2 separate regions of the Homo sapiens genome follow, and region 1 is linked to region 2. A link means that fine-mapping ties the variant in region 2 to the expression of a gene that starts in the linked region. Tissue or cell type: monocytes. Region 2 holds a variant in brackets; the other region holds the start of a gene. All regions are shown on one strand. Distances are from middle to middle.

Region 1 (5,000 bases), 220 kb before region 2:
CTTATGTGGATCCTGCAAAGCAGCCAGAGCACCATAGCAGAGCTGTTCCCCTATTCTTTGGTCTGTGGAATAGGCTACCATACCGGATAAAGCTAAGAGGAAATCTCTAAAAGTCACTTTCCCAGCCCCCAACTAGGATAGGAAATCATAAACAATAACATGTCCCCAAGGGGAATAGTGGAGATCAGTGCAACCCTTAAAGACGTAATGGTTGGTAGTCTCCATCACATTCCTATTGTCACCGGTGTGGCTCCAGCAAAAACCAGACAAATTCAGGAACTTGACAGTAGACTACTGCAAGTTCAACCAAGTCACAGCCTCAGTTGCAGCTGTGGTATCTTTACTACAGCAGATTCTTAAGACCTCAGGCATATGACATGTGGCCACTGATCTGGCAAATGCTTCTTTTCTATCACTATCAGGAAAGGAGGCCAGAAACAAGAATATATATTTACAGTCTTATTCCAGGACTAAATAAGAATACTTTTATCAAGGCAACGGGGCCAAAGTAAGAAAGAAGTACATGGACAGGCCTCATGGACAGATGGAAAGGTAAGATCGCTACCCTAGCAAAGGGATAATAGATGGGATTTGTATTCAGATTTCTGATAACCAGTCCATACATTAGGACTATACCTGATTGAGGCAATCCAAGTTTTAAAAAAAATTCCAAGATGAAGCAACTTCACAGACCCCCTTCTGTATTCGAATCCCATGAGTATAATGGGATGCCTTTTTTAACGGAATGTGATACTGATCATGAATATTCAGTGTTGCTCCCCAAGGAATGAGTAAATTCTCCTGCCCCCATGAACTCAGGAATGACGATGTGACTTGTTCTCGCCAATAAACTAGGAGAATGTGAAATGTGTCACTTCCAGGCAGCCATTTTAAGAGCTAAATTCTCTTCCTGACTCTGTAATAATGGAAGCATGTATCAAGATGGCGCATCTATCAGCCTAGGTACCTGTGTAATATTAAGAACAGGAACTAGGACTTATCTTTTTATTGCCAGCACCTGATAGAATGCCTGGCACAAAGTAGATGTTTGTAAATAATCTTTGATCAATTAAATAGGGAATAAAATTTCATACCACCTGCAATTAGAAGGAAAGCTACAGGCAAGCAAGGACCATGGCTGTCTTCTCACTACTCCATGGGGGAGCCTCCAGAGAGAGCCTTTCACTTGCGCTGGGATCTATGTGCACCCCTTAACACTTTGTGCCAGACTAAGACACTACCAAGTCAGTTGAAACGACGGAGTGCAAACTCTGGCAGGGGAAACAGTATTAAACCAAATCTCCAAATTATTTTCAATTTCGATTCAAAACTCATGAATGATAGCTTTTTTAAAAAATCAGTTTTTTAAAAAAGCCTAACTTGGGGATATTCGCCCATTGGGCAACCAACACTATGCACTGTCCCTAACACTGCAACAGATCCAGGCAATCAATGCAATTGTATGCGTTTCTTGTTGTCGTTGCCACTGTATTTACACCTCACTTACACAGGGACTGGTAACCCATGCTGCCTTGGCAAGCCAACTGCACTCCTCTGTCCCAACAAGCAGGGCAATGGATTGCGAAGAGGCCTCCTCCGTCCCCAAGCAGCTACGTCGCCCAGGGGAAGAGAGAAGGCGGGAAAGTCCAAGAGAGGAGAAACCAAGGCCCGCGCTTAGGTGGGTGTTTTAGTGACGAGTCTGCGGTTACAGCCGAGCGGAGTTGAAAGGGCTGTTAGAAGAATGGAGCAGAAGTCGCAGTTGGGACGAAGCTGAAGAGAGCTGGCATTCGCCCAGGTCTACAGCCAGCCACCTGGTAACCCCTGCCCCCGCCCCCAGAGCCAATCCAGCGAAACTACCGCGAATTCCCGGGAATTCCCTCCAACTCCGGGAAAACTCCCGGAGGGGCGGGGCAAGAGTGGGAGGAGACCCTGCGCGCGGCCGCCAGCGCTCCGGGATCTCGAGATAGCCGCAGCTCTCGCGATCTTTCTGGAGCCGCACCTCCACGCGGAGTCCGAGCGCGTGTGCTGAGACCCCAGGGTCGGGAGGGCGGAGACTGGGAGGGAGGGAGAAGCCCCTTTGGCCTGCCTTACGGAAGCCTGCGAGGGAGGGTGGTGTCCACTGCCCAGTTCCGTGTCCCGATGCCCAGCGCCAGCGCCAGCCGCAAGAGTCAGGAGAAGCCGCGGGAGATCATGGACGCGGCGGAAGTGGGTTTCCTCCTTTCCTGGGCCTGGGAGGACAGACCCCTGGGCCGGGCTGCGCCGAGGGAGGGAGGAGGGGGAGTGGGGCCCTACAGGTCCTTGTCGGCACGTTCTCCGCAGGCTGCGGGCGTGGGGTCCGGGCGCCTAGAGCCCTTGCCCCAGCAGTGGGGCCAGACCCTCTCCGGACCGCGTTTCTTGCGGGGGTCACCTGGGAGTTTGGCCTACTAGAAGCGTGTCCCCGGGGTGGGGAGGACGGGAAGAACCAGCCGCCCCGGAAGTAGGAGCGCGGCGTCACACTTGAGTCTCTCTGGGTTAGGCACGTCCTGCACGTAATGCACAATCCCTGGGAAAATTTTAATAAGCACTAGTAATCGATATGTACTCAGCCCTCGTGTTCCTAATGCTTTAGCAAGTAATGACAGTACTTAGCAAAACCATCTGCCAATATGTTTAATGACCATTTCCCATGTGACAGCTTTAAAGAACACATGTCATTTTTATTTACTTTCTCCCTCTCAGTGACCCGGTAAGGTAGGTAATAGGAGTTACCGAGAATGCATTTGAGGTGAAGTGACCCCAAATCACGTGGATAATTCATAACACCCAGTGATCCTTCGGTGCTTTTCAGAAATCAAAGTTTGAAACCATCCTACAAGTTATGTGTGCTGTAGTACTGTTAAGCCTTAATTTCCGTCTGGCTCCCTAATTTTTCTATAAGGAGTTCTGAGTTTGTGGTAAGCAACATGAGAAGTAAGGTCATCTTAGAATACTAAATGAGGAAGAGTCACTGAAATATTAATAGTACTAATTATGAATGCAACTTTTTTGTCCTTCACACAATTTAATCTCCTTCTGTTGCCCTCAGGCTTCATTGTGTGACTGTATCTCTCTACTCTGGCCAGGGTTATCTTTTTCTTTAAATTGTTCAGTAAGCGCCTTAAACATGTCTGGTTTTATTTTGGTGTAAACACAAAATCCAGCACCCTCCTGCTCTAAAGGAGAGGATTCCAACAGGTAGCTGTAAAGTGACAGAAACTTAATTGTTTCATACAGATCTTAAGTTACCTTGTAAAAACTAGGGCAATTATTTTTGTGTACTCTTAATCTGCTTAATTACATAAACTATCAGTGTACCCTTACAGATAGTATAGGTCTAGATACAAGGTAGACATTGTGGCAGAGTTATGCCATTTTATAGCTAGAAGAATCTTAGATCATTTTAGAGGTAAAGTAAGATTGAAATAAAGGCCACTTATCTATTTAATAAGTATATTTTGTTAACAGATTGGACCCTAGGTCTTCTGTTTCCTGTTCCTAACTCTAATCTGTAACAAGAAATTTGATATTATTATATTGTCAGTGTCAAACTCCTGTAACCTGGTATCCTGAATCTGGTTTTTAGAAACAGGAAGCTGGTGAATTTTTTGATGATGTTTTACAAAAGGAAAGTTGTAGTTAGCTTATACCCAGCATCTCCAGTTTCTAAAAACTGTGGACATCTGGTGCTCAGAAAGCTTACCCAAAACGTTGGTTCTCTTTGAACATTTCTTCCTGTAATAGGAAGTTAATAAAACTGTGGTACTTCATCCTACTCCCTTCACAGAGGAAATTTATGTCCCTGCTTTGAAGTAGTTTCATCTTTTTGAAGAAGGTAGTTAAGATGTGTTGTACATATGTGTAAATTTTATCTGAGAATGTTATTAAGTATGGTAAATCCATCTAGGAGTGGTGATCTTCAAAACAAACTAACCAGAAACAGTACTTTTCTGTTTTCTGTAGAGTACATATGTAAATGAATGAGAGATTTCCACATTATGAAACTACTGACTTTCTGAATTAATAAAATGATCCTGAAAGTTAAATTCATTTTTATATTCTATTATTAGTATTTATGTGTTTACTGTGCTCTTAGTGTTTACATAAAAAGTCACGATGCAAAAAACTTTTTTTGTAGGATTATGCTAAAGAGAGATATGGAATATCTTCAATGATACAATCACAAGAAAAACCAGGTTAGTAGCTATGTGACAGTAAATAAAGCTTTTTTGCTTTCTAATTCCAGGAAAGCTCTAAATGAAATTTTAAGTAAGGTTGGCATAAATCTGAAGGTATAATTCTGAAAAGCTTAAATGACATTAATAATCCAAGTAGATGTCATAACCCTGTGTAAACATTGTCAGTTTAGGGTTCCAACTCTAGAAAAGGAAAAAAAATGTTATTAGGTATTGTAGGTTAAATGGTATGTTTTAAATGGTAGATTATATTTTTTAAATATTCCTAAATTATTAGGTAAGATTCAACCGTTGTCTAGGAGATAGGAGAGTGGCTAATAACTGCCTTCATCACATGTAGCCTTTTTGCATGCTTTAATAAAGCTACCTCTTTTACTTCCCCCAACCCCCACAACTTTACTTCTCTGACTGTTTTTAGCTATTATTTATTCCTATTTTGCTTGACTCTTCCCAAACATTTATATTTTCACTTATTCTCTACAGCATCCTTGAAAACTAAGGAACCAAAGTTGAAAGATAAGAAACTTGACTTACACAGAGTCTGCCAGACTTGGGATTAGAACCAAAGGCCATCTGACCCTAGAGTCCATGGGTCCTTCCATCTTACATCTTCTCTGGCTTCTTTGGCAGTACTATGATTTGAGTTTTAAAGCCTCCACCCCCACTCCATTTTGTTTACTCGTAGCTTTAGTGTCTGGGAATGAAATGAATTATTCTTAGACCCCAGTCTATCTTTTCTTATAACCGCTCTTTTTTGTTAGTGTATGTTGGCATCTTTATATTTCTTTT
Region 2 (5,262 bases):
TCCAATAATGCATACATCTCATATTACTTGTCTCCTGATATGAGTAATGGAAAGGACAAAACATTATCTTGGTAATGTTCTTATCAGAGTTTAACCTGAATCTAATGATAGAACAGGGAGCAGATCAAAGGACATTGTAGAAACAACTAACCTAGACTCTTCAAAATGTCTAAATCATGAAAAATGCAAACAAGAAGTGTCTTGGATTCAGAGCCTAAACTAAATGCAATGAACAATCCTTGACTGGATCTTGAATCAAGGGAAGAAAAGTTAAAAGGGCCATTATTGGAGCAACTGGGAAATCTGAATACGGACAAATTAGATAATCTTACTGTATCAATTGAGAATTTCTTGAGTATGATAATGGTATCGTGCTTGTATCTGAAAATATACACCATCTGAAAATGGTGTATAAACGTATTTATAGACCATCTGTAGAATTTTCTTCTGAGAAATACAAACGCAAGTTTGTTTTAATTTGGGTGAAAAGCTACACTGCATCTAATTTAATAACAAATTGACTGTTCCATAACTTCTACATTTGGGCTTCGACTTTTTTTTTTTTTTGAGATGGCTTTTCTCTCTTATTGCCCACGCTGGAGTGCAATGGCATAATCTCAGCTCACTGCAATCTCTACGTCCTGGGTTCAAGCAATTTTCCTGCCTCAGCCTCCCAAATAGCTGAGATTACAGGTACCCACCACTACGTCCGGGTAATTTTTGTATTTTTAGTAGAGACAGGGTTTCACCATGTTGCTCAGGCTGGTCTCGAACTCCTGACCTCAGTTGATCCACCTACCTCGGCCTCCCAAAGTGCTGGGATTACAGGCATGAGCCACTGTGCCGGGCTGGCATCTACTTCTTAATGGTCACTATGCCTGCTTGGGTGCCAGAAGGGGGCAGGACATGGGTCTGTGAGCACAGATCCCCAGATCCTGGCCTAGGATGGAGTCCCTGCTCAAAGCCCACAGACCCTCAGCCAATGTCTTCCTAGGAGCTGCATGCTGAGGTATCTAGGCATGAAGTGAAATTATGTCTGCAACTTTCAAATGAATCAGAAGAAAAAAAAAAAGAAAAAAATTAAAAGATGGCCATTACACTATTTTTTCAACGTTGAGGTTTGAAACTTATTCAAATAAAAAGACTAGAATTCATGGTAGTATATATTATCTTTGCCAGATAATTCTGCCCATTTTAAACATAATGACATGGCTGGGTGTGGTGGCTCATGCCCGTAATTCCAGCACTTTGGGAGGCCGAGGCGGGCAGATCACCTGAGGTCAGGAGTTCGAGACCAGCTTGACCAACATGGTGAAACCCCTGCCTCTACTAAAAATATAAAAATTAGCCGGGTGTGGTGGTGGGCACCTGTAATCCCAGCTACTCGGGAGGCTGAGGCAGGAGAATCGCTTGAATCTGGGAGGTGGAGGTTGCAGTGAGCCGAGATTGTGCCATTGCACCCCAGCTTGGGCGACAAGAGCAAAACTCCATCTCAGGGAAAAAAAAAAAAAACATAATGAAATAAACAAAATAATGCATTTTAACTAAAGATTCGCTAAAAGATTCCTATTTCACATCTGTTACTTTAGTGAAACATTGTATATCCTGGCCAGACGTGGTGGCTCAAGCCTGTAATCTCAGCACTTGAAGAAGCCAAGGCGGGTGGATTATTTGAGGCCAGGAGTTCGAGACCAGCCTGGCCAACATGGCAAACCCCTGTCTCTACTAAAAATACAAAAATTAGCCAGTCATGGTGGCGCATACCTGTAATCCCAGATACTCAGGAAGCTGAGGTACGAGGACCACTTGAACTGGGTGGAGGAGGTTGCAGTGAGCCGAGATCATGTCACTGCACTCCAGCCTGGCAACAGAGCCAGACTTCATCTCAAAAACAAACAAACAAAAAACCATCACAGGCGAGGTGCTGTGGCTCACACCTGTAATCCCAGCACTTTGGGAGGCCAAGGTGAGCAGATGACCTGAAGTCAGAAGTTCAAGACCAGCCCAGCCAACATGGCGAAACCCTGTTGCTACTAAAAATATTTTAAAAATTAGCCGGGTGTGGTGGTGCATGCCTGTAATCCCAGCTACTTGGGAGGCTGAGGCAGGAGAATCGCTGGAACCCGGGAGTCAGAGGCTACAGTGAGCCAAGATCATGCCACTGCACTCCAGCCTGGGCAACAGGGCAAGACTCTGCCTCATAAATAAATAAATAACCATTGTATATCCATTAATATTAAAAATAAAAACTTAGATCTCACAATTTCAAATCACCAATCCGTTTTTTTTTAATTATGTTTACTTGACAAAATGCAGCTCAAGATTGAAGGACTATGTTCTTATGTACAAGATAGGATGAATTTCTCACTAATGTCAATTTGATTTAGTCACCCTTTCCCTTAACAAAATTAGTTTTCTTTGAAGCTAGATGAGAAAAAAGCCTAAGACTTAAAGTCAACTACAGTAATTAGTTTTCCAAAAACATGGTCTTTGGAAATAGATCTCAGTTTCAACTGTAGCCTGAGAGGAAAGTAAGAATCTTACATTTGCTAATCCATCCTGCTTTATTTTTTATTTTATTTTATTTTATTTATTTTGAGACGGAGTAGCACTCTGTCACCCAGGCTGGAGTGTAGTGGCATGACCTTGGCTCACTGCAACCTCTGCATCCCGGGTTCAAGCAATTTTCCTGCCTCAACCTCCTGAGTAGCTGGGACTACAGATGCGTGCCATGCCCAGCTAATTTTTGTATTTTTCTAGTAGAGACAGGGTTTCG[C/T]CACGTTGGCCAGGCTGGTCTTGAACTCCCGGCCTCAAATGATCCACCCATCTCAGCCTCTCAAAGTGCTGGGACTACAGGCGTGATCCACCATGCCTGGTCTTATTTATTTACTTTTTGAGACAGAGTCTTGCTCTGTCACTCAGGCTGGAGTACAGTGGTGTGATCATGGCTCACTGCAGCCTTGACCTCCTGGGCTCAGGTGATCCTCCCACCTCAGCCTCCTGAGTAGCTGGGACTACAGGTGTGCACCACCTCACCCAATTAATTTTTGTATTTTTTTGTAGAGATGGGGTTTTGCCATGTTGCCCAGGCTGGTCTCTATTTTCTGGGCTCAAGCAAACCACCTGTCTCAGCCTCCCAAAGTGCTGGGATTACAGGCGTGAGCCACCACTCACAGCCCCTGCCAAATTTTAACTCTGAATTTTTAATTTGTATGAAATAGATTTTAAAATACCATCAAGGTCAGAGAAAAATGCATGAATTTTGCTTTATAGAACTTCATATAATTCTAAAATATCAGATTACACAACAGGGACTGATGGGTCCAACTTAACCAGGCTGAGAAAAAGCACTTCAGTTCAGAGAGACAGGGAAACTAGTAGTTTCACAGTTCAATACCCTGCAAAAGATGGCAGGGGATGAGTTAGTTGAGGGCACAAGAGCTTCACAGTCTATGGCAGGGGATGGTGAGAACGATGGCAACTCTTAGGGTATAAATAATGAGCTAAGTGGACATTTGGAATGGGAATATTACATACGCTGGTGTTATTAGTTATTGTCATTGTCAATGAATCAGATTCCACAAAAGGAACAAGATTCCTAATTTGGCATGAACGCAGATGAATAAAATGCAGGATCTCAGCTTGTGAATTAATTAGTACTATGACACAGGCAGACACTAGCTGACATTCCCCTACATAAGAATGGAGGCTATTAAAAACTTTTTCCAGTATAACTAAATAGCGCCTGACCCCACCTCAAAATAAAGGGCTACCTGATGTAATTCAGGTTTTTGCCCCAAGTCTCCAAACCCTTTTCCAGATTTTTTATTTTCACTTCAGCCCAGAGTGGTGCAAATAAAGGTACAGAGTAGTGGGCCTGGTGTTAGCAAATCAGAAAGAAGCAAAACAGGATGAACCCTTGGGAACTTAAGTTTCCTGCTGCTATTCTTCTAGGCTTATACCACTTTCCTCACCACTGTGAGGTCCAGCCTGCTTTTCACCTCAAGGTCTGGGCACTGCCCCTTCCCCTACAAAGAACAATCAGAATCTAGGTTTTGCTGAAAAGAAGCTGATCTTTACTGAGTCACAAGCAAACTCAAAGACAATATCAGCAATCACTTTGAACCCTGTTTCCCCGAAGCATCTATGTGAACAAGAAAATATCAAGTCTCTCTAAGGAAGGTTTTTTTAAAAAAATTTTTAAATGCTAAGGAATTTTTTTAAACTTCCATATAACTAACGCTAAAGGGGTTTAAATCAGGGTTTAAAATATTCCCGCTTAACCACTAATTATTAACTCATGTAGGAATCACAGCATAAAAGACTATGATTTGACAATTACTGTATCATTAAAAATACTAGAAACTACAAAGAGCCAGAAATTTGTATCTGATTATTAGACCAACTAATGAAAAATGCCACTTAGTAGACACCCACTTATGCAGAACTTAAGCTCAGTACATAGTCATGAAATAAGCTGAAGTTCTTGCCCATCTGGAGCTTATTATCCTTATGGCATAGAGATAAAAGCAGAAGTGACAGATGGAAACACCCATGTACCAAAATACCATTAAAAAGGGGATTCTTAGAATGATCAGACCAAAAGCTGACTGGTGACTTCAGACATACATGAAAACTTTACACTTAGAGTGTAATGTTTATGGATACAAATTAGTTAGGTGATCAAAAATTTCAACTCAGAATTCTAAAACTTCATTTGTATAACTTTAGCTTTAATTCAAATTAATGAAATAACTGAAAACCACTGTCTTTTTAAACAAAATGCTATTTGCAAAAAGAAGAGCAAACCTTTCCACTCGGATGTTGAGGTCCTCTGCAGGTCTCTGATCTGAGCATCCACTAGGCTCCTGAGAGGAAGTGGCATGGCCTGCACTTTCTCCTCCTTAATTATTAAATAAAAAGAAATAAGAATACTGCATTTAATGCAACTTTTTAAAGGAATAAATCTTTCAGATTATAGCATCTGTTAATAATTTTATATCTTAAGCATTATATATTTTCCCTAAAAATGGAGAAGGAGCTAAATATGCTATTACTAATCCTAAAGTTTAGACGTGGATAAAATTGTTCACAAATAGAAATAAAGCAGTTACCGAGTTAAAATCACCAAGGTAAAGGTCAGATGTAAAACATGAATAACAATCTGGCAGGAGGCATGCCTGGCTATGGGTAGCCTTCACTCTAGAGCAGTGCCCTCCAATATCTATACTGTCTAACACAGCAGCCACTAGACAAGCGGCT

What was found. PIP is the estimated chance that this variant, and not a neighbour inherited with it, causes the effect.
Region 1: DARS1 starts here. The variant in region 2 is fine-mapped to the expression of DARS1 in monocytes (TOPMed, PIP 0.98).

Annotation. Positions count from the first base shown.
Region 1 is chr2:135,982,608-135,987,607 of GRCh38, reverse strand. DARS1 (aspartyl-tRNA synthetase 1) reads left to right here and starts at 1,982. Exons shown (of 16, transcript NM_001349.4): 1 at 1,982-2,205; 2 at 4,154-4,211. The coding sequence starts at 2,140. It overlaps DARS1-AS1 (DARS1 antisense RNA 1), which reads right to left and starts at 2,432. Exons shown (of 4, transcript NR_110199.1): 1 at 2,092-2,432. RefSeq lists an enhancer at 2,136-2,235 and a silencer at 2,286-2,345.
Region 2 is chr2:135,761,459-135,766,720 of GRCh38, reverse strand. It overlaps UBXN4 (UBX domain protein 4), which reads right to left. Exons shown (of 13, transcript NM_014607.4): 6 at 4,810-4,903. Among named protein-coding and RNA genes, the nearest start is that of UBXN4, 22 kb to the right of the region's middle. The variant C/T (reference allele first, on the strand shown) is at 2,777.